4 linked regions of the Homo sapiens genome follow. The protein of the gene in region 2 interacts with the protein of the main gene of each other region in a pairwise test. Each region holds a gene or a part of one and is shown on either strand. Other genes may lie near its edges.

Evidence for each region.
Region 1: the proteins of TPM3 (region 2) and NUP54 interact in binary tests that used the Homo sapiens proteins (3 or more experiments, as listed by UniProt).
Region 3: the proteins of TPM3 (region 2) and TNNI1 interact in binary tests that used the Homo sapiens proteins (3 or more experiments, as listed by UniProt).
Region 4: the proteins of TPM3 (region 2) and HSF2 interact in binary tests that used the Homo sapiens proteins (3 or more experiments, as listed by UniProt).

What each region holds. Positions count from the first base shown.
Region 1 is NC_000004.12:76,124,378-76,131,411, reverse strand, and holds part of NUP54 (nucleoporin p54), read left to right. Parts: intron 1-127; coding exon 128-182; intron 183-662; coding exon 663-756; intron 757-6,655; coding exon 6,656-6,763; intron 6,764-7,034. UniProt on the Homo sapiens protein: Component of the nuclear pore complex, a complex required for the trafficking across the nuclear membrane.
Region 2 is NC_000001.11:154,175,092-154,182,125, reverse strand, and holds part of TPM3 (tropomyosin alpha-3 chain), read left to right. Parts: intron 1-3,921; exon of another isoform or gene 3,922-4,012; intron 4,013-5,877; coding exon 5,878-6,011; intron 6,012-7,034. UniProt on the Homo sapiens protein: Binds to actin filaments in muscle and non-muscle cells. Plays a central role, in association with the troponin complex, in the calcium dependent regulation of vertebrate striated muscle contraction.
Region 3 is NC_000001.11:201,411,711-201,418,744, reverse strand, and holds part of TNNI1 (troponin I, slow skeletal muscle), read left to right. Parts: intron 1-932; 5' UTR 933-951; coding exon 952-962; intron 963-1,625; coding exon 1,626-1,629; intron 1,630-3,490; coding exon 3,491-3,532; intron 3,533-4,095; coding exon 4,096-4,227; intron 4,228-5,623; coding exon 5,624-5,713; intron 5,714-7,034. UniProt on the Homo sapiens protein: Troponin I is the inhibitory subunit of troponin, the thin filament regulatory complex which confers calcium-sensitivity to striated muscle actomyosin ATPase activity.
Region 4 is NC_000006.12:122,395,186-122,402,651, reverse strand, and holds the start of HSF2 (heat shock factor protein 2), read right to left. Parts: upstream 3,001-7,466; 5' UTR 2,915-3,000; coding exon 2,822-2,914; intron 1-2,821. UniProt on the Homo sapiens protein: DNA-binding protein that specifically binds heat shock promoter elements (HSE) and activates transcription. In higher eukaryotes, HSF is unable to bind to the HSE unless the cells are heat shocked.

The sequences.
Region 1 (7,034 bases), on a different chromosome or scaffold from region 2:
TTATATTTGACAGTCACTTTTCATTATAGCTTCTAGGTATAGGGTCTTGCTTTAGGAAAGCCTTTGTCATACACATATTATAAAAATAGAAAATTGTTTTAGAAAAAATATTTTTTATTTGTGGTAGGTGTTGATCCTATTATCTGGGAACAGGCCAAGGTAGATAACCCTGATTCTGAAAAGTAAGTATGTCTTCATCTTGTTTCATTTAAGAACTAATATTTGCTACTAGGAAAGCAAACATGGGAGCTATTAATTATAATTCTTACATATGAGACAAGTTTATTTTCATTTTCCTGGCCTTTAAAAAATATTGATTATTGTCCAGCTAAAGCTTCAGCCAAAACAAAAAGAAAAAAATAAGAAAAAAAAAGATTATGGTAAGGCAGCATAGCATAGTGAGAACTAACTAGGAGCGGAAAATTCTATTTGCGTTTTCATTTAATAATGTAATGTTTTGACTGAACTGTATTTCCTCATTTGTAAAATAGGGAGGTTGAATAAAATCTCTTTGGTATAACATGGTTATCTCATAGTCATAGATCTGCCTTAGAGCCCTAGAAAGTTGATGTAAAATTACATGAGTGTTACTAAAACCTTCACTTCTTGTATTTTGTAGTAATAGGCTTAAGGTCTGAAAATTGTTCACTGCGTTTCTTCAGGTTAATTCCTGTACCAATGGTGGGTTTTAAGGAACTTCTCCGAAGACTGAAGGTTCAAGATCAGATGACTAAGCAGCATCAAACCAGATTAGATGTAAGCATTTAGCTTTTTATTCCCTGGCCCTGGAAGTAGGGAAAGGGATTATAGACATTTAATTCTTTTTAGTATATGTGCTACTGTTTTATCTTAATCAGGAAACAATGTAGCATACACTGCAATTTAATAGTTTTATACAACTACCTTCTTTATGATAGAAGTCCCCAAATCACATGAATCTGATTTGATATAATAATGAATTTAGAATTCTTGTCTTAGTGGATTAATTAGACTGTCATTTCCAGTTTCAGCCAGGGATTGCATATTATTATTTATGGGGCCTTATGAAAATGAAGGTTATAGTAATGATTATTTTATGTTGACATATAATTGTCTTGGTATATTATTGTATGTTGATAAAATTAATGCTTAAATATACTTAATATTTTATTTCATAAAGTAGACTTTTTTAGGAGACCAGGGTGGGTGGATCACTTGAGATCAGGAGTTCAAGACAAGCCTGGCCGACTTGGCAAAACCTGGTCTGTACTAAAAAATTCAAAAATTAGCTGGGTGTCGTGGTGCACGCCTGTAATGCCAGCAACTTGGGAGGCTGAGGCATGAGAATTGTTTGAACCCGGGAGGCAGAGGTTGCAGTGAACAGAAATCGTGCCACTGCACTCCAGCCTGGGCGACAGAGTGAGACTCCTCAAAAAAAAAAAAAAAAAAAAAAAAAAAAAAAAAAACTTTCATAATTAAATACTTAAAGATTCTTAAAGGTCAGAGAAATTTCTATGATTTCAATTCTTTTAACTTTGCTAAGGTTTTTTTTTTTTTTTTTTTTTTTTTGAGACGTCTCTCGCTCTGTCGCCCAGGCTGGAGCACAGTGGCGCGATCTAGGCTCGCTGCAAGCTCCACCTCCTGAGTTCACGCCATTCTCCTTCCTCAGCCTCCGGAGTAGCTGGGACTACAGGCGCCTGCCACCACGCCCGGCTAATTTTTTGTATTTTTAGTAGAGACGGGGTTTCACCGTGTTAACCAGGATGGTCTCGATCTCCTGACCTCGTGATCCACCCATCTCGGCCTCCCGAAAGTGCTAGGGTTACAGGCGTGAGCCACTGCGCCCGGCCAACTTTGCTGAGGTTTTATAACCCAGGAGCCTATGAAAATAATGTGTATTCTGCAGTCCTTGGGTGAAGTTTTCTATTAATGTCAGTGAGATCCAGTTGGTTGATAGTATTGCTCAGTTCTGTATTCTTGTTGTTTTTTCTGTCTGCTAGTTTGAGAAGAGATTTGAAATCTACAGCAACACTTACGGATTTGTGTTTTTCTCCTTTCATTTCTCAGTTTTTGCTTCATGTATTAATAGTTTGAAGGGCTGTTGTTATATAGGATTGTTGTGTTTTCTTGGCAAATTTACCTTTTATTATTATATCATATCCCTCTTAATCCTCGGTAAGTTTTAAATCTTCTCTAATGGCCTTTTCTTTTATTGTTTTTAATCGATACATAACTACATATTTATGGGGCATAGTGTGATAATTCAATACATGGATATAGTGTGTAATGATCAAATAAAGTAATTAGCATATCCATTACCCCATACATTTATCATTTGTTGGTATCATGGGAAATTCACTCCTATAGCTATTTGAAACACAATAAATGGTTGTGAATTATAGTTACCTATAGTGCTATAGAACACTGGAACTTAATCCTCCTATCCAGCTGTACTTTTGTATCTGTTAAGCAACCTTTGGCAGTTCCCTACTCCTACTCTTTCTCCACCTCTAGTAGCCACTATTCTACTCTTTTCTTCTACTAAATCAACTTTTTTTAGCTTCCACATATGAGTGAGAACATGCAGAATTTATCTTTCTGCACGTGGCTTATTTCACTTAACAAAATGTCTTCCAAGTTCATCTATGTTGCTGCAAATGGTAGCACTTCATTCTTTTTCATGATTAAATAGTATTCTATTGTGTGTGTATATATGTGTACACATACACACCATGTTTTCTTTATCCATTCATCTGTTCATGGACACTTACTCAAGACACTCAGAAGTCTTTGTCTGGTGTTAACATAGCCACGCTACCTTTCTTTTGATAAAAAGTGTTTGTATGGCATACCTTTGTCCATCTTTTTGCTTTTAACCTACCTATATTGTTATATTTGAAGCGAGATTCTTGTAGACAGCAAAAAGTTTGGATTTAGTCCTACCATTTATTTGTTTTGTGTTTGTAGCCTCTGTTTTTCATTCCTGTTTCTACTTTTCTGCTTTCTTTTGAGTTATTTGGACTTTTTTTTTTTTTTCAGCATTTCCTTTTAATCTATTATTTCAAGTCTTAGAGCAGTACTTCTTAGTAGTGGCTTGTGGTGGTGGTGGTGATTTTGTCTCCCAGAGCACATTTGGCAATGTCTGGAGACTCTTGGTTGGGGAGTACTACAGGCGTCTAATGTGTAGAGGCCCAGATGCTGCACACATTCTGCAGTGTACAGAACAGTACTCCCACAACAAGGAATTACCCAAGATTAATAGTGCTGAAGTTGAGAAACCTTTCTCTAGGTAATACGATGTATCTCCTCCCACTATAACTAGCAGACTTCCCTTGGAGCTCCCTTTCAGCATTTATGCTCATTTCCAGGTTTGAGGCTGGGTTGAAACCAGACTAGGGACGCCTGAGGGGAAAAATGGGTAAACTCACCACAAGTTTATTGGTACTTTAAATTCCTATCTTACCTGATCTTCCTGCCAGAGTTCCCAAATAGCTGCCCCGTGTATTCCATCCAAGTTTTATAGCTATATTAAATGGGAGAGATTGGGGTTGTATATGCTTAGTCCATCTTGTCCAGAACTGAAATCATTCATATCTTTGGCCAGTGTTTCCACTGGGCTTCCTATTTTTTCTTTATTGAACTTCAGTAATCATTTACTCTAGATTGTAGTCTCTGTTTATAACGTTGTAAATATCTTCTAGTTTCTCATCTCTTTGTTAATTCTGTCTTTGGTGTCTGTAGTTGAAGAGAAATCCTTAATTTTAATGTAATGATATCCATTAAATGTTTGCCTTGTATTTTCTTTTTGGGAATTTGCTTAAATAATTTTTCACCCCAAAGTCTGAGAGTATCCTACATTAAAAAAAATTTAGAGTTTAACCTTTCACGTTTGAGTCTTTTGTTGTCATCATGAAGTTTACCTTTATATAAAGTATGTGGTATGAACTCAGATTTATTTTTCTCTAAATAGTGGGTCCATTTTTTTTTTTTTTTTTTTTTTGAGATGGGGGTCTCGTTCTGTCGCCCAGGCTGGAGTGCAGTGGCGCAATCTCGGCTCACTGCAAGCTCCGCCTCCTGGGTTCACGCCATTGTTCTGCCTCAGCCTCCCAAGTAGCTAGGACTACAGGCGCCCACCACCACGCCTGGCTAATTTTTTGTATTTTTAGTAGAAATGGGGTTTCACCGTGTTAGCCAGGATGGTCTCGATCTCCTGACCTCGTGATCCACCCGTCTTGGCCTCCCAAAGTGCTGGGATTACAGGCGTGAGCCACTGCGCCCAGCCCTATATTTTTAATATTGCCTATAAAAATATGATATTCCTCAATGATTATCAAAGAATTTAAATTACACTGTTTGCATATATATATGTGATCTATTTCTAGACCCTCTCTTATGTTTCATTGGCCAGTTGGTCTGTTCTTATACCCACCCATTCCACATTTTTTTAGTCTTATGGCTTTGTAGTGTATCTTAATATCTAGTAGCATGAATCTCTAATCTTGGTTCTTCTTTTCAAAGTTTTCTGGGTCTTTATGGGTCTTTATTCTTCCATAAAAACTTTAGAATCAATTTGTCAGAATGCTAGAATTATGGTTGGAATTGCATTAAATGCAAAGACTAATTTGTGGGAATTGAATTTTAATATTAAATCATTTCATCCATGAATGTGGTATGTCTCTTTAATCCTTGCAGTCTTTTATGTCCTTTAAAATAATTTTAAAATATTCCCTTTTAAAATCTCATGCGTTCTTTCTTGGATCAATTCCTAGATGGCTTTCTTGGATCAATTCCTAGATGGTTTTAGTATTTGTTAATAAATACTGTGGCTGATAACATGTCTAATTTTTTTAGTTATTACTGGTAGAAAATAATGTTGTAAGTACTCTTGTATCTAAAAACCCTGGTGATTTTTCAAAATTGGGATGGGGAGATTGCCTAGGTTTTGTAATATAAAACATGGCCACCTAATTTTGTCCTTTCAGCATGGCCTGGCATTGGAAAGTTTCTGTAAAAGGTGATGTGTGCAGGTGGATGTGCTAAAATATGTCTTGCACAATCTTAACCTCTTTCTTGTAACATGTAAATGTAAGCCAGTGGCATAGAATGATTAATTATGATAGAGACAATTATGGGATTAATTCTGATTGGGATGCTTTAATAAAATAGTGAGATTTTAACCTACCCTGTAAGGTTAAGACTTCCTAAGGCAGAATAGTGGGATTTCAGTCAGGTAAAACAGCAAGTCAAAGATCCAGAGGCATAAAAATGTATCCTGCTGCATAATTAATATCATTCCTTTTCCTCTGCACTCTGATTACTCCCTCCAAGTATTCTGTAACAGTTAATGTTGAAATGTACTGTACTTGCTGTCAGTAGTTAGATACAGGGCTAATTGTCTATTAAGACACCCCCTAGATATCATCTTACACATCTTAACTTTTTCCACTCAGACCTGGTTGTTGGCTGTATTCCATGTTACTTCAGATTCCTTAATTATTTCTGAAGTATGTGTTTTCTTTTTTTCCTTTTGAGATAGGTCTCTCCCTCTCTCTCTGTCTCTCTCTCTCCCTCCCCCTCCCCCTCTCTCCCTCTCTCCCTCTCTCCCCCTTTCTCCCTCTTCTCCCTCTCTCTCCCTCTCCCTCTCTCCCCCTCTCTCCCTCTCTCCCCCTCTCCCCCTCTCCCCCTCTCTCCCTCTTCTCCCTCTCTCTCCCCCTCTCTCCCTCTTCTCCCTCTTCTCCCTCTCTCCCTCTCCCTCTCTCCCTCTCTCCCCCTCTCTCCCTCTCCCCCTCTCCCCCTCTCCCCCTCTCCCTCTCCCTCTTGCCCATGCTGGAGTGCAGTGGCATGATCACGGCTCACTGCAACCTCAAACTCCTGGGCTCAAGTGATCCTCCCACCTCAGCCTCCTAAGGAGCTGGGATTACAGGCATGTAGCACTACACCTGGTTAATTTTTTATATTTTTTGTAGAGACAAGGTCTTGCCATTTTGCCCAAGCTTGTCTCAAAATCCTGGTCTCAAGCACTCCTCTTGCCTTGGCCTCCCAAAGTGCTAGGATTACAGGAGTGACCCACTGTGCCCAGCCGTGTGTGTGTGTGTGTGTGTGTGTGTGTGTGTGTGATGGAGTCTCACTCTGTTTTTTGTTTTTTGTTTCTGTGAGATGGAGTTTCACTCTGTTGCCCAGGCTGGAGTGCAGTGGCACGATCTCGGCTCCATCCCCCAGGTTTAAGTGATTCTCCTGCATCAGCCTTCCAAGTAGCTGGGATTACAGGTGCATGCCACCACACCCAGCTACTTCTTTGTATTTTTAGTAGAGACGGGGTTTCACTATGTTGGCCAGGCTGGTCTTGAACTCCTGACCTTAAGTAATTTGCCTGCCTCGTCCTCCCAAAGTGGTGGGATTACAGGTGTGAGCCACCACGCCCAGCTTATTTTTTCTATGTATTGCCTCATTGCTAAATTTCCTAGAGCTCTAAAGATATCTTTGCATGATTCTTTTAAAAAAATTTTAGGTATGTAAAAAGGGAAGAAATATAAAGCACAGATTTATAGGGAAAGAGTTTATATTTTGAGAGATGAATCTCAGGCTTATCCCAAGATTAGAATTTCCATACAGGTGTAACTGATAAATAGTTGTGATATTTGATTAACCCTCCCCCCCCCAATTTTTTTTTAAACAGATCATATCTGAAGATATTAGTGAGCTACAAAAGAATCAAACTACATCTGTAGCCAAAATTGCACAATACAAGAGGAAACTCATGGATCTTTCCCATAGAACTTTACAGGTAGTAATTTGGATTTTCCCCCCCAGTGTTTATAAGACTATGTGTGTGAAATAATGTACTAAATATAGATTTTTAAAATAGAAAAAAAAATACTAAAATGAAAGAATAATGTGAAATTACAAGTACCGAATTCTTTCAGTAAAACTTTGAAATTGGAAAACAAGTCTCATAGGTTTGAGTGAGGAGAATAAAAATATCCTAAAGTTCGTATTTTAGTGACAGTTTGAGGGAAAGCAGTGAAGAAATAAAGCATCTTAGTGCAAGGGAAGCT
Region 2 (7,034 bases):
GAGCAGAGCTGATAAGCGAGTGTATGGCAGAGAATCAGATGGTGTGCCAGTCTCAAGGTTTCTGATTGACTTGGGCAATTTGGTGGAGACAATAATGAATTCCAGGTGACTCTAGTGGAATATTTGTTCAACTGAAAGTGGAAACATAAAATGTTGGTGGAGTGAACAGTGATTCTAGTGATTTCTTTCTTCCTTTCTTTTTTTTGAGACAGAGTCTCACTCTGTCGCTCAGGCTGGAGTGCAATGGCATGATCTCGGCTCATTGCAACCTCCGCCTCCCGGGTTCAAGTGATTCTCCTGCCTCAGCCTCCTGAGTAGCTGGGATTACAGGTGCCCGCCACCAAGTCTGGCTAATTTTTTGTATTTTTGGTAGAGACGGGGTTTCGCCATGTTGGCCAGGCTGGTCTCGAACTCCTGACCTCAGGTGATCCACCCACCTCTGCCTCCCAAAGTGCTGGGATTACAGGTGTGATCCACCGTGCCCAGCCTATTCTAGTGATTTCTTTAAACGTCTTTCTGTTTAAAAGTGGCTGATTAGTTTTAGTGTAAGCCATAAGATTTTCCAAGGTCTAGGGTGCAGTCTAATAGATGGAGCTGATACGAGTTGAGGCTTTGTTTTGGAGGATCTTGAGAGAGTAAAGTAACTGTTGCTAAAATTCAAGATCCAGTGAAAGTACTCATGTGGTTTATTCTTTGTTCTTTGTTCTTTCCCTTGGTAAGTTTTTGTTTTTGTTTTTCTTTTTGGCTGCTCCTCTGGGAAATAACTGAGAATGTTTTTGGGAGGGGGAGGGGTGGATTTCAGAAAAGGATGGTAATTGGGGGACAGCTGCCCTCCAGTTTAAATACTTAAAGATTGTTGGAATACTCACTTATTTTTATAAGTGGTCATGGAGATGCTGGGATGGGAGCTTGTTGTCTTCCTCAGACACCTTTTTCTAGGTAGATTTTTTTCCTCTGTTCAGTTTGCCAACAACTTCTTATTATCTGTGCAAGTGAGATGGACTGGCTGGGTGACTCTTTATGGCCAGTGGCACTTTCTCATCTCCTTTGTTCTGGAGACCAGATAGCTTTAAAGGGGAAGACAGAGGAACTGGCCATGTGTTGAGCTGCAGAATCTTAGGCTCAGTATTTAAATATGGACATTCTAGGAGTAGTTCTAAGGTGGGTGATTCCTGCCTCCCATCCCCCCTCTTTTTTTTTTTAGATGGAGACTTGCTCTGTAGCCCAGCCTGGAATGCAGTTGCACGATCTCTGCTCACTGCAACCTCCACCTCCCAGGCTCAAGTGATTCTCCTGCCTTAGCCTCCTGAGTGGCTGGGATTACAGGCATCCACCACCACACTCGGCGATTTTTTTTTATTATTTTATTTTTTTATTTTTAGTAGAGATGGGGTTTCACCATGTTGGCCAGGCTGGTTTCAAACTCCTGACCTCAAGTGATCTGCCTGCCTCAGCCTCCCAAAGTGCTGAGATTACAGGCATGAGCCACTGCGCCTGTCCTGGGGTGATGTTTCTTAAGCTACTTTCACTCAGAGCCTGCCAAATTTGCTTATTGAGCTGAGGTCTAGTGAGGAAGTCCTCAGAATGGGGAAGTAGAGTTATAGTTAAATATTGATGAAATCATTTCTTCTACTCCCCAGCCTGAAGAAGCTTAATCTTTTGACTTTCTGCTGCTCTGCTGAACTTTGAACCCCTACTGAGGAGGAGACACCTGTGGGAAGGGAGGGGGGTTGCTTGGGCTACCTGTTATCCTCTTAAGGCATTCTGGAATGTGGGTTTTGCAGACTCCTCCCTCCTCTGGAGCGGGAAACTGCACTCTCTGATGGTATCTCATGCTGTTAGTGGGATTGTCACTTAATTATTTTCCTGGTTACTTTGTGTGAACATCCAAGCCACCCTTGTTGGGAAGCTAGATGAGTCTAAAACTGAGACACTGGTGTTCTAGGATCCATCTTTCTTTTCTGCTCTCGGCCTGGAAATTGGTCTTTTATAATGTAGCACCTTGTCAAATTTACTTTCAGTTCTGTATTTCCTTTTTACTTCTGTCTAAATGGAAACAGATGGCAACATAATGTTTAAATGCAGTCTTTTTCCTTATCTCTTTTTTTTTGTGGTAGTGGTGATAAAAATACATGTAAAATTTACCATTTTAACCATTTATAAATGTACAGTTCACCTTATCTGTTTTTAATAACTCTCTCCTAATTGTCCCTGATATTTTTCTCTTTTTAATTTTTTTCTAGTCTAAAAAACTTAAGAGGCTGGGTGCGGTGGCTCACACCTGTAATCCCAGCCCTTTGGGAGGCCTAGGCGGGTGGATCTGAGGTCCACCTGTGGATCTGATGAAACCCCATCTCTACTAAAAATACAAAAAATTAGCTGGGCATGGTGGCGCATGCCTGTAATCCCAGCTACTTGGGAGGCTGAGGCACAAGAATTGCTTCAACCCTGGAGGCGGAGGTGGCAGTGAACCAGGATTGGATCATGCCACTGTACTCCAGCCTGGGCGAGTATCGGCACTGGGGGAGTGAGGGGTCAACTGCGGGAGTGTAAGGTCAGCACACTACCTCTGCCTCAAAAAGAAAAAAAAAAGTAATAACAAAAACCTTAAGAGTACTACCGAGGGAGTGGGCTTTGATTCTGGCCTTAATCCTAAATTCCTAGTCTCTGGAGAGGTTAGAATGCTTGACTGTTGTGTGGTTCTCTTCTATTCGTGGGCCTGGTGGACTAAGCAACCTTTCTTTGGTTGCTTTGCTTTCCTTTCTCTTTCCCCAGTACTAGAACACACACTCACAGGGGAGAGGCAGATAGCCCTTTACCCCTGCTTAGGCTCCGCCTTTGTTTACTGTGGGGCAGATAGCTCTACTCCCTTCCAACTTGCCTCCCCTTTGGTGAAGTTTAAATTCCCCAAGGACACGGTATCTCCCTGGGTAATGCATTTGTGAGCACAGTGAACTCAAATAGTCCTTTACTCACAGGGCTCAAGCCTAACTTTCTGATACTCTTTCATTTGAATTTTATCTGTGGCTTTTATCTAATAAGAGAAACCCCAGTGTGGCAGAAAGCCAGATTTAGGCTAATCCCCTTCTGTCCTTGGCCCTGTTCTGCCTGAGAGTACCATCACACTGTCAGTTTCTTGCCTGGAGGGGTTGACATATTTGGGAAATCTCTTTGGAGTGGAGGATAGCCGAAGGTGTTGTCAGCCATCTGGTAATGTGACTGAGTTGCTGGGGCATTCTACTCTTTCCCCAATCCCTCACCCAGGATCTTTGCTTCCTGGGCAGTGGAGAATCCTATTATTACTTGAAGGGAAGAACCACAGAGTACTGTATATCCTCCACACTGGGCAGAGATAGGTCAGCTGAAACACCAAAACCGCATCTGGATGGGCATGCTAAAACCTAAGATGATTAGGAAAGTGCAGAGCTTAACGTTTCCCAGGGCCACAGGTAGCCTGGTCTGCAAAAAGTAGGCCTGTTCAATCTCTTGGTACCCATTGGTATTATTTGACCTGAAAGGGACAGGCACTGTGCATAGACTCATGAGGGAAAAGTCAGCTTGTCTTCCTTGTTCCTTTAAACAAAGTATCAGATCTTGATTCTGCAGGCTTTTGTTTCATTGTAAAGAGAACTGATCCTCTGTGCTAGGAGAAAAGAGAAAGGCAAGGTCCCATTCCCTACCACTCCACCCTGGAGGGGGTCTCTGAAGCTTTTTCTAGGACTCCCATCTCAGGTTCTGCTTTTGATACAGGCTTGTTCATGTGTGCATGCTCTTAGGAGGGCACCAAGATGTGTTTTCCCCCTCTCCCTTTTCAGCCTTGCTAAGAATTCTATTGTAAATGCTGATTTGTGGGAGAAACTGCCTGAGCCAGCTTGCTGTCATGGCAACTGTACACCCCCGCCCCATAGCCTGTTATCTTCTACTCCAGTTTGGGTAACTACTGGTGAGCTGCATGATGTCTTACATTTCATGAGCTTCCTCTAAATCTAGTTGTATTTTTCGTCTGAGGGGGGTAAGTCATTTTACTAGCAGTGTCTCCTAGGTCTTGCCTGATAGCCTGACTTGCTCTTGATCCATGGCCTTGTTGGGTTTGTGAGGAGAAATGTGTGTTGTTACAGAGAACATCTATTTTTCTGGAAGAGGCAGAAGCAGAGAATACTTGTCTTTGTGGTGTTTTGAGTAGTGTAGTTAGAGGCACAAATGGTTTCTTAATGATTTCAGCTTATGTTGACTTCTCGATTTTCTTTGCCTGGTGGCTAGATTGTAGCCCCAGCCCTCTGCTTCCCTTCCTAGTCTCTTCAGCTTCTCATGTTTGTATGTGGAAGTTTTTGTGCCAGTCCTGATGGTTAAAAAGGAGTCTTTTGGTCTATATTCTTCCTCATCGGAGCTAGTGGCCCAGGCTGTTTCTATAGCTGCACCAACTCCTGCCTGCCAGGAAGAAATCAGGGTAATAGAATTCAGGCACAATCTGGGCTATAGAAGAGAGATCGTGTTTACCAGGCACTTGGATAAGCATCTGAACTGGGTGGTGTGCGGGGCATATTAAATTCTTGTATACTGTTGCAGTCAGGGTACCTCCCACCAGTAAAGGTAGCGGGGAGGCAGTCATGGAAAGAGGTTTTCCTACCATTAGAATTTATCCATCCACCTGCAGGCTGCCTCCTTCTTTCCTTGTTTCTTAGAGAAAACCCATCCAGGATGGGTTTACTTGGACTCTAACCTATATACTTCATTGTGAGATGGAGGCCAGGGGGAAGATTGTCGCTGTATTAGAGGGTGAAGCTAAGGGGATGGCTGGAGGAATAGAAAGGAGAAAATTCAGAAATTTGGAGGAATGGTAGTGGGTGTGGTGGAAATGTTCTTTCTTTTTTGTAAAGCTATCAAAGCAGATAATTTTAGCCAGAAGCAGCTCCTTGTAGCCAACTTAAAAAAGGAGTACGGGGGCACAAGTTGAAGGGCTGGTGAGTAGGCATCCCAACAATATTCCATTCTTTTGCTTTCCAGTCTGGAAGGCTATTCTGGAAGACATTCCCTTGGCTAGTTATTCTTCTGATGTGTTAGGGTAAAGTGATCATAGGAATAACGGTTTGAGTTAAGCAGCAATTAATAGGTAATCCAGGATTCCCTCTTTTTTTTTTTTTTTTTTTGAAATGGAGTTTCACCGTGTTGCCCAGGCTGGAGTGTAGTGGCGCAATCTCAGCTCAGTACAACCTCTGCCTCCCGGGTTCAAGGGATTCTTCTGCCTCAGCCTCCCGAGTAGCTGGGACTAGAGGTACGCGCCACCACACCTGGCTAATTTTTGTATTTTTTATTAGAGTCAGGGTTTCACCATATTGGCCAGGCTGGTCTCAAATTCCTGACCTCATGATCCACCCGCCCCAGCCTCCCAGAATACTGGGATTACAGGCATGAGCCACCACACCCAGTCAGGATACCCTCTTTAAGAAACCTTGCTTTTTTTTTTTTTTTTTTCCTGCTTTATGAGACACTTGAAAGGTTACTGAGGATGAGACATGCCTCCAAGCCAGAGCTCAGGCAGAAGGAACCCTTCATTGACTTTCTTTTCTGACTCCAGTGTGTTGAGGAATTTGAACTGAGTCCAGGAAGTGGGTGGTACTAACTCACTGGGCTGGGCAAGGAACTGAGTTTTAAAACACTCTTCCTGTGGAACATATGGGAGTTCGTTGATGGGAAAGGGAGGAAATATATATATATAAAGTTATGTCTGCTAGATCTTTTAACAGCTGAGCTAAGACAAGTTCTACCCTGCGAGACTCTGGCTTTTTCATGGTAGTCAACCCTGATCTTAATGTCATAGTTATTTCTTCTTTTCTCCATGCCTCTGCTTCCCTTGTCCATTCTTTCCTTCAAATGCAGGCTGAGGCTGAGGTGGCCTCCTTGAACCGTAGGATCCAGCTGGTTGAAGAAGAGCTGGACCGTGCTCAGGAGCGCCTGGCCACTGCCCTGCAAAAGCTGGAAGAAGCTGAAAAAGCTGCTGATGAGAGTGAGAGGTGTGTAGGGAAGCCTGATGGAGTGTGGATTTTAAAAGTTCATAATAGTTCTGATCAAGATTTCCTTATAGACCTGTTTTCTAAATAGCAATTCTGGCTGCGTGTGATGGCTCACGCCTGTAATCCCAGCACTTTGGGACGCTGAGGCAGGAGGGTGGCTCAAGCCCAGGAAGTTGGGGCTACAGTGAGCTCTGATTGCGCCACTGCACTCCTGGGTGACAGAGAAAGACCCTGTGTCAATCAGTCAATAAAAATAAAATACTAACTCCATCACACAGGATCTCCTTTCTATTCTGCATATTCTGTCCCCTTGAAGACAGTAAGGGTAACTTAGATGTTGTGACCCTTTTGTAATTGGTATTTCCTTACAAATTGGCCTAATGATCCTTAAAATGGGATCACCAGTATGACTTCTACTTTCTGGATCATAAGCTTCTATTTGTGAGATTAATTTCTCTAAAACAGAGGTTCTCTAAGTAAGGTCTCAGACCAGCAGCATCAGCAATACTTGGGAACTTGGTAAAAATTCACATTCTCAGCTCCTATGCTGATCTGCTGAATCAGAAACTTTGGATGTGGGGCCTGGCAATCTGTTTTTAGTAAGCCTTCTCAACGCTGGTTGCATTATTAGAATCATAGGTAGGGGTGAGGGGGGAAATCACTGGGGAATTTAAAACTGGATGCTTAGATCTCATCCCAGTTCCATTAGAATCAGTTGCAAGAGGGGTCTGGGCATTGATGTTTTTAAAGTTCTCCAGCTAATTTTTTTTTTTTTTTTTTTTTTGAGACAGAGTCTCGCTCTATAGCCCAGGCTGGAGTGCAGTGGCGCAATCTGGGCTCACTGCAAGCTCCGCCTCCCGGGTTCACGCCATTCTCCTGCCTCAGCCTCCCAAGTAGCTGGGACTACAGGTGTCCGCCACCACGCCCGGCTAATTTTTTGTATTTTTAGTAGAGACAGGGTTTCACCGTATTAGCCAGGATGGTCTTGATCTCCTGCCTTTGTGATCCTCCCGCCTCGGCCTC
Region 3 (7,034 bases), about 47 Mb from region 2:
GATTTGCCCTGCCTTGCGGCTTATTCTCTCCCACTCAAGGCCTCCCACTGCCCCACCCTGGAGGTGCCAGTTGCATTGCCATCTGTGGATGGAGTTGTGCCATGTGGCAGCTACCCGTTTTCCAGCATCCACTCTGCTCATTCACTTTCTAGGCCTTCCTCTCTCTGAGCCCTTCAATGACCACCCTTATTCCACAGGATAAAGTCTAAACTCAGCCTGTCCTTCAAGGCCCTCATGAGTGAGCTACACTCTCACTTATTTTTTTTTTTTTTTTTTTGAGAAGGAGACTCATTCTGTTACCCAGGCTGGAGTGCAGTGGTGCGATCTCGGCTCACTGTAACCTCCGCCTCCTGGGTTCAAGCAATTCTTCTGCCTCAGCCTCCTGAGTAGCTGGGACTATAGGCGTGCACCACCATGCTGGCTAATTTTTGTATCATTAGTAGAGACGGGGTTTGACCATATTGGCCAGGCTGGTCTTGAACTCCTTACCTCATGAACTGCCCGCCTTGGCCTCCCAAAGTGCTGGGATTACAGGCATGAGCCACTGCGCCCAGCTGCTCTCACTTTCCAAACATATTTCCTATGGACTCCATTCTGTTCTCCACTGGGATTGGCAAGCTTTATCTGGAAAGGGCCAGATAGCTTTGTAGCTCACATAAGGTTTCTGTTGCAAATTCTTAAAAAAAAAAAAAAAAAAAAAGCTTACAATTCTTTAAGCAAAAACAGGCTGGGAGCCAGGTCAGGCTTATGGGCTGTAGTTAGCTGACCCCTGCCCTGCAACCCTGTCCCATCTTGACCTGCTGGAATCCAATGTGTCTGATTTCTTCCTTTTGTGTTCTGACTCTGTCTCCTAGGCTGGGCTCCCAAGGCCCAGCTGGGCAGGGGCAGGGGTTTCCACTTTCCCTTATGAATGATTCCTCTGTGCCCCCTAGGTGCTGTCTCACTGCCACCATGCCGGAAGTGTAAGTAGTCTCACTGCCATCTGGGGCCCCAGGAAGGCAAGTCCCTTTGCCACAGACTTCAGCCCCGCAGTGGAGGCACCATGTTTTCAACCCCCAAAGCTTTTCCCTAAGAGACCAGGTCCTCAAACAGGGGCAGCACTTGATGGTTTCCCCTGTGCTGCCTGTGTCCTCCCAGCCATTGAGCAGAACTCACTCCCAGGTTGCCCTGGGAGTGCCTTTTTGGCTTGTGCCTCAGAGATTTCCTGTCTTGATCTATCACATGAATTGCATGTACCAGGCCACCACTTAACACTGGTGCAGTAGGTGAACAAAGCTTTGGGAATTTACCCACGCACCCGTGGATGGATGCTTTCACGTTGCTGGAACCCTACGCTAAGGCTTCCCTCCCCTTCCACCACTTGTCCCCAACTTACGATGCCCAGTACCTCCCAATAAGAATGCCCCGTAGTTCAAAGGGCTGTTGAATTTTTATTTTATTCTGCCGGAACCTCAAACCGCTCCCCTTGCCTGATGCCTGATGACTTTCTGGCTCACTGTTGTCACTGGCCCCCTCCTCCCCCAAGCTGGTCTGTGAGGTTCTGCGACTGCACATGTAATCCTCATTGTTCATACTCACTCTGTGTTCTGCTCTTTCCCCGTCCTTCCTGTGATGGATGCCTGAAGCGAGGTAAGTGATATTTGGGGTATCTCTGTCTTGGTTAACTCTAACGACTGGTAAAAGTGGGAAGGTGGGGTTGGCATCTGAGGAGAGGGAAGAGCCTGTGTTAAGGCCTGGTGGGAGTCCAGGGGGTGTAGGGTATTTAGTGGCTGAACAAATTCCCAGGAGATGGAAACGTCAGGTGAAGATTCTGGATGTGGGGCTTCCTAGTGTCCAGGGAGTTGCTGTGCCAGTGTACCATGTCACTGGAAGGACTGGTATTGCAGCAGGGTTGGGTGTGACTCTGCATCCTTGCTGAGCACAAGCTCTTCCTCACCCACTCTGAGAGCTGGTCCAGTCCTGGGGGGACCATCCTATTCCATGCAGAGCTGATCCTGTGCAAAGCTATATTGGAAGGGTAAGGGATAGTCATTGGGTTATTCCACCCTTGCCCAATGGCTGAACATTGATTGAGGAGCAAAGAGATGTCCTTAAATCCCTCAGGTGTTAGAAAACCCTGACACTGGCCATTCTATACACTCCAGACTTACCAGGCTACTGAGATCACAGCCTATGTACAGTCCAAGGATGGGGATGGCAGGGATAGGGATGTGGGCCCAGGGATGGAAACAGTGAGAATTAGCAGTATTGATGGAGGGGATATTTGGCACAGAGATTCTCAGTAAGAATTGAACATGTTACTTTTCAACATTCATATGAATTTTTAAGTTTTGCTGAGGCTCGTATTAAAGTGAGTCCTCACTGACTGATGGTCAAATGAGGTGGCCATCGGCTCACCAAGTGGTGGGGAAATAAGATCGCAGTCAAACATTTGCCATGTGTACATTACAGTGTGTAAACCATGGTAGTAATGCTTAGAGTCATAGGCTCTTTCTTTTGAAATTGCACTTATCTGAAATGTAACAAAAATCTTTAGGAGAGGAAAAGACAAACCAACCACTCTGAACAGTCAGAATAGAAGTTACACATTCCATTTGCTGAAACTCATCCATTGTCTCTCATGAGAACTTCCCTCTCAAAGCCTAATCACTTCTACTTGACACCCTGGAATAACATTTGAGAGCCATGCTCTGCCGGCTCACAGCACATTAAGTCTAGGTAGGATGCTTCCTGCTGGCAATGAGAAGTGACCGCCTATGGCCCAGAAGATACTCTAGTGCTCGAAAGGCATCACAGTCTCATTAGTTGGGGACCAAGCAGCCCTACTACTCACCTTTGCCAACCCTGAGGGACCACTGTCACAGGGCTAGGACTAGTAAGCAAGAACATGTTTAGGATTTTTGATAAGAAGATAAAACAGTGGTTTTATATCTTAGAAAGATTTGTATGGGTGGTGTTAACATTTTTAAAAGTTTTGAGGTCTACATAGATACGTTTCATTTATTTGGGAAATTCACAGCTTATTTATGCAGCATGACGGATCATCAAGGTATTGCTGTATTACTACCTGGAGTGTGAAAACACATAGCTTTTACGATTTTCAAAGGATTTGCACATCCATGATCTCATTTCATCTGCAATAACTCTGTGAACTAAGTAAGGGGGGGGGTCCTAATATCCTTATTTACAGATGAGGAAGGAGGTGCCTGTAGAAGCCATGTGGCCCTCATAGTATCTTACAAGATTTCAGCAGCAGCAGAATCAGAGTGGGAAGTTAAGGCTTCAGCCCCTAGGTCAAGGTAGCTGACTGCAGCCTTCTCTGAACTGCAGAGGTTAAATAACAAAGATGAGCTTTTAAGGCACCGTAGGGTGAGCAGAGGATTCCGGATAAAGATAGAGAACGCTGGCTGGCACTTGTCTTGTCCTAGACCAGAATTCCAGTTCTGCAGCCTCTGCCTCACCACCTGTCTCTCTCTCTTCTTGCCCACAGAGAAAACCCAAGATCACTGCCTCCCGCAAACTCTTGCTGAAGGTGAGGCTGGGGGCTGGCTGTGGGGGGATGCCCAGTGGGAGGCAGAGGGGCAGCAGAGCAGACTCTGAAGGGATGTGGAGGATTATGGCAAGGAGAAAGGAAGGAGGCCAGAGTGAGGATGATGAGGGGCAGGAGTCCAGCATTGCTGGAGCCAGTGCCAGGCTCAGGTGATCAGTAGGTGGGATCCTCGAGTATGGATTCTGGCATCCGCCTGTGGTCCCTAGAGTAGGTGGTGACCAGCTTCAGAGTGGGAAGCTACTCATGCAGGCAGAGGGACTTCCTTTATTTTCATATGTGTTTCTCTCTTTGGAGTTTTGTGGGTCAAAACAGACAGTAAGTGGATAAGAGGAAGACTGTCCGGGGAAAACAAGTTCCAGGGCTTGAGGAACATTGTGTGCAGCCACTGGGTGTACCCTCATGGTGGCCTGTCCATGGCTGCTGCATACACTTCTACACTGGACAGTGGTCTCAGAGTTGGCCCAGGCTGTGGCTGCCCTCCCCTCATTCCCTGATGCCGGGTGGGAGATGTGAGGCCCCCAGCTCAGCAGGTGTGTCCTGTCCAGAGCCTGATGCTGGCCAAGGCCAAGGAATGCTGGGAGCAGGAGCACGAGGAGCGCGAGGCTGAGAAGGTGCGCTACCTGGCAGAGCGCATCCCCACGCTGCAGACCCGTGGCCTGTCCCTCAGTGCCCTGCAGGTTAGCCTGGCAGGTGGGGCGGGGCAGGGTGGGGCTGGAGGTGCTGTGTGGGTGGCTCCAAGGACCAGGCGGCAGGAGCCTGAACTAACACCAGCTCAAGGCTCCATAATTTACAGGGCACTCCTCCCTTACATGGTCTCATTTAATCTTCACAACCACCTGTGAGGTGGGAACATTAGATTCCATTTTACGGGCACTGAACTGAGCATCAGAGGGGAGGCGTGACTTGCCTGGGCTGGGCGGCCCAGCTTCACAATCAGCCAGTGTGGTGGCATGGAGTGGGGAGGCGGCCGGGGTTGGGAGAAGCCCCACTTTTCCAAGGACTTGTCTACCCTTTCCTAGAATTTGGTCTTCAATGTTTTCAGAACACTGGTAAATTGGTTAAATGCCAGTGATTATAGAGAAAAGAGACTGGAAGGAAGTATATCAAAATGTTACTAAGTATCCCTGGGTGGTGGCATCACTAGGTATTTTAATTTTTATTATTTTTGTTTAATACATAGTTTTCAAAATGTCTAAAATTAACGCATTACTTTTATCATAAGAAAACTATTTTATTTTGCTGGGCACAGTGGCTCATGCCTGTAATCCCAGCATTTTGAAAGGCGGAGGCAGGAGGATTACTTGAACCCAGGAGTTCGAGACCAGCCTGGGCAACATAGTGTGAGACCTTTTCTTTATACAAAGTTTAAAAAAATGAGATGGGAGGGTCACTTGAGCCCAGGAGGTTGAGGCTGCAATGAGCCATGATGAAAGAATACTTTTTTTTTTTTGAGGCAGAGTCTCATTCTGTTGCCCAGGCTGGAGTGCAGTGGCGTGATCTTGGCTCACTGCAACCTCTGTGTCCCAGATTCAAGTGATTCTCCTGTCTCAATCTACTAAGTAGCTAGGACTACAGGTGCACACCACCATGCCTGGCTAATTTTTGTATTTTTAGTAGAGACAGGGTTTCACCACATTGGTCAGGCTGGTCTTGAACTCCTGACCTCAGGTGATCCCCCACCTTGGCCTCCCAAAGTGCTGGGATTACAGGGATGAGCCACCGTGCCCAGCCAAGGATACTAGTTTTTTGTTTGTTTGTTTGTTTTTTTGAGACGGAGTCTCGCTCTGTCACCAGGCTGGAGTGCAGTGGTGTGATCTCAGCTCACTGCAACCTCCGCCTCCTGGGTTCAAGCGAAGGAATACTATTTTTTAAGAAATCATGACATTCAGACAGGAGAACAGAGGGCATACCCTTTGAGCTATTGCCCGTCATGAGCCTCAGAGTGGAGGAGACTGTCAGCTCCTCTCTGGATCCCAGGTCTTGCAAAGGGGCTGGGGAGAGGGTCAAGGGCTGGAAACTGATGTCTCTGTTCCCCTCTTCTTCACACCTGCATGATCCATCTGCGGCCCCCAGGACCTGTGCCGGGAGCTGCACGCCAAGGTGGAGGTGGTGGATGAGGAGCGATACGACATTGAGGCCAAATGCCTCCACAACACCAGGGAGGTGAGTCTAAGGAAGGGAAGGGGCATGGCCATAATGGGTTGGGCAGGGGCATGGGCACGGATGCAGCAGCCATGGGAGGTCCCCTCCTTCCACAGGGCCTAGGAAGGGGCCACTTAAGCAGGAAACTTTGGTTTGTCTGCCCTAGCCCCATAGGGCTGGAGATGGGTAGAGTGGATAATCACACATGAAAAGTACAAACTTCCTCCCTACCTGCCATGTGGGCTCATCAGCCTAACAGAAGCTGCTCTCTTTATCCACCCACACAAATAATCATATGCCTGTTAATAACGTCTTACCTTTGTGAAGTGCTTTCATGTTCGTTATAGCCTTTGATCCTCCTTATAGGCCTGTGGATGAAGTAGGGGCTATTATCTGCACCTTGCAGAGGAGAACACTCAGGATCAGAGAGGCCAAAGACTTGTCCTAGGTTGCACAGTGGTGGTCCTGGGACCAGTGCTGGTCTCTGGCTTCCACTCCGGTGCTCTGTGCTCCCTTAGCATGGGGTGTGGGAGGATTAGCTCCACCCAGACCCTGCTCCAGTGGGGAGGGGCAGAGCAGAGAAGGACAGGGCTCCTTTGGGGCATTTGTCCAGGCAGTGAGGAGGGGGCAGGGAGGGAGCACAAGCCACTTCTCTCCTTCCCACTTCTGCCCACCAGGAATTATATGTGGGGTCACCAAGCTCCTAAGAACTCCCCCTAGAGATCACACCCTGGGAATTCCTCCAGGGGTCTAGGACCTGTAAGTTTATCACCCTGCTGGACCAAGGCTGTGAGCTGCTTTGAAGGCTCACTGGGGAGGAATAAGTTAGAAGCAGGGATGAGGCTGCAGGAACAAGAGGAAGCAGCCCTGCACTCCAAATAGGGCTTCCAAATCAGACAAGTCTCAGTCTGGTGGAGCCGCCCCTTTTATTCAAGGCTATAGTGTTAGCAACGGCTAATAGGCTTTATCTGTCCACTTAACCATCCGTTTATCAGCAAATGTGCAGTGGTTATTTGCAAAGGGATGGGTGGGTCTGACTGTCCTAGAGCAGGGATCTCCAACTCTTGGGCTGTGGACCAGTACCTGTCCGTGGCCTGTTAGGAACTGGGCCACACTGCAGCAGGTGAGCAGTGGGCAAATGAGCATTCCCGCCTGAGCTCTGCCTCCTGTCAGATCAGCGGCGGCATTAGATTCTCACAGGAGTGTGAACCCTATTGTGAACTGTGCATGTGAGGGATCTAGGTTGCACGCTCCTTATGAGAATCAAACTCATGCCTGATGGTCTGAGGTGGAACAGTTTCATCCTGAAACCACCCCACCACCTCTCCGTGGAAAAAGTGTC
Region 4 (7,466 bases), on a different chromosome or scaffold from region 2:
GAGCCCAGGAGGCAGAGGCTGCAGTGAGCCGAGATCGTGCCACCGTACTCCAGGGTGACAGAGTGATACTCTACCACAAAAAAAAAAAACGAATATGATATAGTGTGATATAGTCTCTGCCACTTGGAAATTCAAAGCCTGTTGAGGACTATTATATCATCATTCCTACCACTCTCATTACATTTTCTAGGGTTTCATTTATTCATCAAAGAAAAGAGAAAGATGAAAGTAACTTATTTTGGTTTTTCCACCTAACATTATTGTTAAAGTTTTACTTTTCAGTATTAGCACTGCTTTTAGAAAAATCCATGGAGAGCACAAATGAGACAGCTGCCTAAGCAACTAGGCTTAGCCCTAGACAACATTTATTCAGAATTGTCCATTGACTTGTGGCAAGCAACATTTTGGTATAAAACTAAATATGATGTCAACTTGCATTAAGTCTAGTTCTATTGGTGGAAGACTGATCTGGGAGCTCAGAAATCTATTAGGGTAGGGGTGTCCAATCTTTTGGTTTTCCTGGGCCACACTGGAAGAAGAATTGTCTTGGGCCACACATAAAATACACTAACACTAATGATAGCTGATGAGCTTAAAAGCAAAATTGCAAAAATATCTCATGTTTCTTTAAGAAACTTTATGAATTTGTGCTGGGCCGCATTCAAACCCATCCTTGGCCACATGTGAGCCTCGGGTTGGACAAGCTTATGTTAGGGTCTTATCTCCAATCTTGGCGAGCTGTATAATTATGGATAAATAATCTCACCTGTCCAAGCCTCAAATCCTCATCTATACAATGATAAGGCTAACCTAGATGATCTCTAAGAGTCATTTCAAATATAATTTTATCTTCATCATTCCTACCACTCCATTACATTTTCGAGGGATCTCATTTATTCATCAAACAATTATTAAACACCTAGTGTGTCTCTGGCACAGTGATCTCACTGAGCTTACATTTTGATTGTCCCACTGGCATATTAGAAAATTGGTTAACACATAAGCTTAAAGTTAATAATGGGATTAAAAAATGGTTAAGTGGCTTGTTTATTTGGCTTAGAACTCATAGAATGATGCATTTACGGATCAGTACGAAACTCTCCACATTTGACAGTACTCAGAAAATAAGAATGTTATTAAAACACTGTTGCTAATCAGAATTTAATAGGCCTACCACTGACATGATACTCTGATTAAAAGCAACTGCCAATATATATAGCCCCTATTTCTGGCCCATAAAAGACAAAAAGGTATGATAAAGTCAGCTTTCGTGGGGAGAGAATCTCAGTCCAATCTCTAACACGAATACGTGTCTGAGTAACAGTCTGTACTGATCCTTCTTGTCAACTTTTAATCCTTCTAACTGATGAAAAGCATGAGACATGTGTTTATTTTAAGTACATGCTAGTGGCTGGCTTTCTTATTTTCACCTAGCTTTGTACAATTGTACAGAATTCATTAAATGCTTAATAGAAACACTCACGCCCCCCTACTCAACTCCAAGCAGGGAGTGGGGCTAAAAGGATAACTCAGTTGCTCATAAAGAACACACAAAAATTAAATCCTAGAAGGAAGTCGGAAAAAAGAACAAATAATAACACAAGGCAAACTATGGTATTACAGAAGTCAAAACTTCAGGGTCTTAATATGGTGCTCACTCCCTGTTAAGACAAAAGTAAATAAAACTAAGAGTTCCTATAATAGGAGAACAGGAAAGAAAGGAGGACGGGAGATAACATTTACTCAGCACTTAACAGGTGCCAGGCACTATGCAGGTAGTTTTCACTTATTCTTCTCAAGAACTACACATATGAAAATATGCCTCAATAGGTGATCATCTACAATAAGAGTTAACCACTTTCCTTCATAAAAATGATTCCAACAGCCTAGGAGTGTATTCTAATGCACATGCACTGTGGATGTAAATAATCATTCTGCCTAAAATCTTGTATTTGGGACTGATATAGGTCTTGGGTCACCTAGGCAACCCATCCATCTTATGAAAGATTTAACTTAGGCCAGACAAGATAAAGGGCTGGACTAAGGTCATGCTTGTTTAGAAGCAGAGTTGAGATCAAACCAATAATCAACACATCGATATGCCCCTCTGCTGGTAACTGTTCAGCGAAATTTAGTAACTACTAAGTTACCACCTATTAGTACTTTATTAAAACAATCCTAATAATCCCATTATACAAATAGCACAGAATCTCAAAAGAATAATTTGTTAATTTCTATATATTTTTAAAACCAACTGATAAGCAGTAACCTGCGTTTGAACGTATGTCTATTGCCCTGACTGCTCTCCACATAAAGATGCCAGATGCAAAGCAATGTTGGGGGAACTGGGGGTGATCGGTCGCTGAGGTAAAGATCGCCTCCTATAAAGCCCCACGTTGATGATCCTGGCCCTGGGCTCCCTGTCCCCTCCGCGATTTGTAACCCCTGAGCCGGGCGGGAGGACGGAGGATGAGTGTGCAGTAAAGAGGCTCCCGCGCCCTCGGCTCGCCGATTCCCCTCGCGACGCCGGGCCGGTTCCGAACGCGGACCGGACCGTTAAGGGGCTGCCTGGGCCGCTACGCCCCGCGCGGGCCGCCCCTCCCCCACCGCGGCCTGAGGAGAGCGGCGCTGCCGGCCGGGCCCCCGCGGCTCCCCGAGCGAACAATACAGGGGGTCCCCCGCGAGGCTGAACGCCAAGGCCCCGCACCGCGGGCCTCGCAGACAGCGTCGAGCCGCAAGGCCGCGAGAGACCACCCCGCAGGAGAGCGAGTGAGGAGGCGGTTATTCAGGGGGTTCAGAGGCCGCCGTGGCCTGACCGTACCTGGCTCCAGGTGATGAACTCGTTAGTGTGGGTTTCCTCCACAAGCGTCCACAGCTTGCTGAGGAAAGCCGGCACGTTCGAACTCTGCTTCATTGTTAACGCGGCGCAGGGATTCCAAATTCTACACCCGAACGCGGTGGTAGCGGCGGCGGCAGCTACGGCAGCAGCTCCCCGAGAACGCCCACAACGCAGGCGCAGCAGATCTTGGTCCCCGCCCCCCCAACCCCGCCAGGCGCGCGGCAAGGCCGAGAGGCCGGGCGGCCGCACGTGACGGACAAGTCTCCGCGCTCCGCCTGTGCGCGCAGTGGTTCCGCGCCTGTCCCGTCCCTGGCCAATCCCAGGAGCCGACTGCACGACAGAGAAAAGCGATTGGCTGCTGCTGACATGAAGGGGGTGGGAGCAGAAGGGGGTGGGAGCAGAAGGGGGCGCTGCCTCCTCATTTGCCTTTTATACAGAAGCCTTGATGGTAGCAGACTTAGGCTTGGGAGACCGTGTTTGGATGTTTCACGTGGAAACAGCTTATGGTTTCTGGGCTGTGGCTGGGAGGCTACAGAAACCCTTCAGGGCCTTTGAGTCATAAGTTTGGCAGGCAAAGTGTGGTTTGCACCAGTTTAGAGAAAGGATCCATTTGCATAAGGAAAAAACCAGCTCTCAAGCATGATGTGCTAGGCCCCAAATTGAAATTGTCTTAAAAATAATGAAACTTGTTCTTACATTTTCATTGGGAGAAAAAGCCCTCTTTAAAATATGTTTATCAAAAAGAGCAGTTTAAATAACTCACTCTCGATTACTTAAAACTGTAAACCAGGAACTGCAATTGATATATCATGTGCTGTTTTTAATCCAGTCATCAAGTGCCTACTCTGTACCCAGAATAAAAAGAAATAGACTCATTTGTACTATTTTAGTTAATTAAAATAGTTTTTCCTGCGTATACTTTACAGATATAGTCTTTTTTGCCTAAGAGATTGGTATAGTGGAAAAAACAATGGAAAAGGAGTCAGTAGATCTCAGTTTAGATAAAGCCTCTTGGACATTTTTCTGTATATTAAAATACACTGGTTCTGTCATTTAGAACAATTCCTTAGCCACCAGTGCCAGTTTTTTCCATTTCTTGACTGGGAATAAGATCTATCTTTTTACCCACTAAGAGTGTCTTTAATACTATAATGGCTGTGCAAATGCTTTGAAAATATGAAGTCTACAAAATTCGACTTTTTTTTTTTACAAAAGTCAGCATGTGAAGGCAAAAACTTACAAACAAGTCAGAGATAACATACAAAACTTCAACATAGGATTGGTTTACTTCTTGGGTGAATGTAAAATAGTACATTAAATATATATCTATCATTTAATGGAAGATATATGTATATCTCTTCCAATGAGCAAGTATTTAGTGAATGCTGCCTTTGTGCTCAGCACTGGGATGTTGGCTGAAGCAAAATCAGATATATGGAGGCATGCATGTGATAGAGGAAGTAATATTTGATGAGCCCTTATATATGCCAAGGGCTTTACATATATTATTGAATCCTCACAACAACCCAATGAACTAGGTTTTATTATCCCATTTTCCCAGAGAAGATTCTGAGACTCAAAAGTTGATTAATTTCTTCAGTCACAGCAAGTAAATGGGAGAGTATTTACACCCAAGCTTTATTGAGCTCAAAAGTATGTGCCCTTTCCATTGTACAATGATGACACTGTTTCAAAGCTCAAGATGCTTATATTCAAACTCAAGAAACAATATGACCACAGTGATCAGCACTCAATATATACAAAAAGAGCTAAATGTTTTGTATAAAATAAGTACTAGATAAGTTTAAAAAGACAGATTAGTAGGTTAAGGTGGTAAGGAAGGATTTCATGGCAGATAGGGACCTTAAGTTGGGTCTTGAGGTACAAATATATTTGAATAGCTAAAAGGAAGACAACAGAATGAGCAAAAACCAGGAAGCTAATGATCATGTCTGTCTATGGAGGGCAACAGCTCAGGAGGTAAGAATGGCAGTGTCTAAGGAGGAAATGTGGCCTACTTTCATGGCATTATATTATTTTCTTCTAAAAAAAGAAGGTGTGATTAGATAGAAGCAGAAACTTGTCTTTGGACATTCAAAGGCTGGGCATTCATAGGGCTGGGCTTAGTGGGGTGCCATACTTAGTTTAATGCTCTGTTCTCATCCTCTTGAAATTCTCAGTTTTTGAACAAGGGACTGTACATTTTCATTTTGCAATGGATCTTGCAAATTGTGTAGCTGATTCTGTTTCCAATGTATGGCATCTTATAGACCGTAAGTTTGAAACAAATGGTTCTCAAACTTAAGCATGCGTCTGAATCACTTGGAGAGGGAAGCCTTCCAGTAAGCAAATGAGCAATATCACTTATCAGGTAGTATTTGTAATACTTATAAGGGCAGTGACAAGGATAAGTTATTAACCAGATAAGAAAACCTTGGCACCAGAAAACTTAGATGATGTATCCAAAATCATCTAGTTAAGGTTGGAATTGAAACCAGGTCTTTCGTAGTCTGAAACATGCTTTTTAAATTTACACCAATGTGTCTCAAACTTTAGCGCAGAATCACCTGGACAGCTTCTTAAAGAACAAATTGCTGCTTTTGCTTCCATGGCTCTCAGTAAGTCTGGGGTACAGGTTAAGAATTTTTATTTTTAACAAGTCCCAGATGACGCAGATGCTACTGGCCCTGGGACCGCATTTTGAGAATTGCTGTTATAGAGGAAAAATTAGTAAACTGAGCTTCCCTTACTACTAAGATGTACAGATTTATTGTTATGCTTTACTTCTGTCTGTTTTTTTTTTTTTTTTTTTTTTGACAGAGACTTACTCTGTCATCCAGGCTGGCAGGCTGGAGTGCAGTGGTGTGATCTTGGCTCACTGCAAACTCTGCCTCCCGGGTTCAAGCAATTCTGCTTCAGCCTCCTGAGTAGCTGGGATTACAGGTCTGCACCACGAAACCTCACTAATTTTTGTATTCTTAGAAGAGATGGGGTTTCACGATGTTGGCCAGGCTGGTCTTGAACTCCTGAGCTCAAGTGATCTGCCACCTTGGCCTCCCAAAGTAATAAGATTACAGGTGTGAGCAACTGCACCTGGCCACCCTTCATCTCTTAATAAAATCCAGATGTTCCAGGAATAACTTAAACGACTATGTTTTGTTTTTCTATGAACTTATAATCGTTAATATTTATTATAATTAGTACATTTTCTGAAAAACTAAGTATTGAATGCAGACTTTTTTTGGGGAAAAGGAAATTATAACTTGGCTTGTTTGCACTTATTTATAAAACTGAGAGGGGAAGAAAACAAAATCAAGCTTTATCTCACAATTATTTGCCACCTATAATATCCCTAAAATATCAGAAGAAACAGATTTGCGCCAGTGTCGACAATTTTGACATGTTTATAACACAAGAAGATAAAAATGTCACTTTCTTAAAGGAGTTGCCTCCTGTTAACTCCAGTTTAAAAAGCTGGATTATTTTCATGGTTCATTTGCAGCCTAGAATGTAAGACTTAGATTTAGAATAACATTCAAAAATATGAATGATCCAGACCTTTGTCTAGGAAATAGAAAAGCATATTATGGAGCAATTTGATGCTTCAAATCATCAGACGATGCCATAAATTCTATCCAATCGATTTTGCAAAACTAATTGGAATCAACGGTGCAACCAGTATTAGCTTTTAAAGATTTTTTTTTCAAGGATAGGATGATTAAATCCAAAGGTGAACTGCATAGAGGTTTCCACCTATATTGCTATCTGGACAAAGTGTTGATTTTCTTCAATTTTGGAATGACTTAGGGGACCTTAGGCAAATCACCTAACATTTTCTAGTCCTCGTTCCTTATATATAAGATGTGAGTGAAAAATATCTGCTATGCTCACTTCACAGGGTGGTTTTGAAGATCAAAGAAATTGTCTCTTCCTCCAGTCCACTTTCACAATCTTTATGGATCTCTTTCTAAAACACAAATCTGAAAAGGTCACTTCCTGACTTAAAACTATTCAGTGACTTCCCATAATTTCCAGAATAAATTCAAACCCCTTAAGGGGCATAAAAGGCCTTCTCTGATCTGATGCCGCCTACCATTTCAGTTATTGTCTACCATTGTTTACAACGCCTTTCCCTTAGCCACACCTAATTGCTTGTAGTTACCTTACTGGTCATATTCTTTTATACCTCTATGTATTTCCATAGGCTGTTGTCTCTGCCTGCAGAGCCCTTCTTCACCATTTTCCCCTAAATTCTTCTTCAACCTTCCAGGTCAAGTACAATCCCGTACAAACATAAGTTCTTTTGTGAAATCTTCCTTGGTAACATTTATTATAGCACTTACTACATCATATTATAATTATTTATTTACATGTATTTTTCATTCTAGACTATGAAACTGCTTCAACATAAATACTATGTCATATGTACATTCACTTATTTACAATGACATTCACAATGCATGATATATGTTAAAATATCAATAAATATTTGTTGAATTAATAAATGAATACATGAACAGGTAAGTGCTAATCATCTGTTTATTCTTGCATGACCCCCAAATCTGGGTTAGTTGTTCCTCCCATGTGCTCCTATAGCTCTGGAACTTGACCTTCATAGTTTTTACCA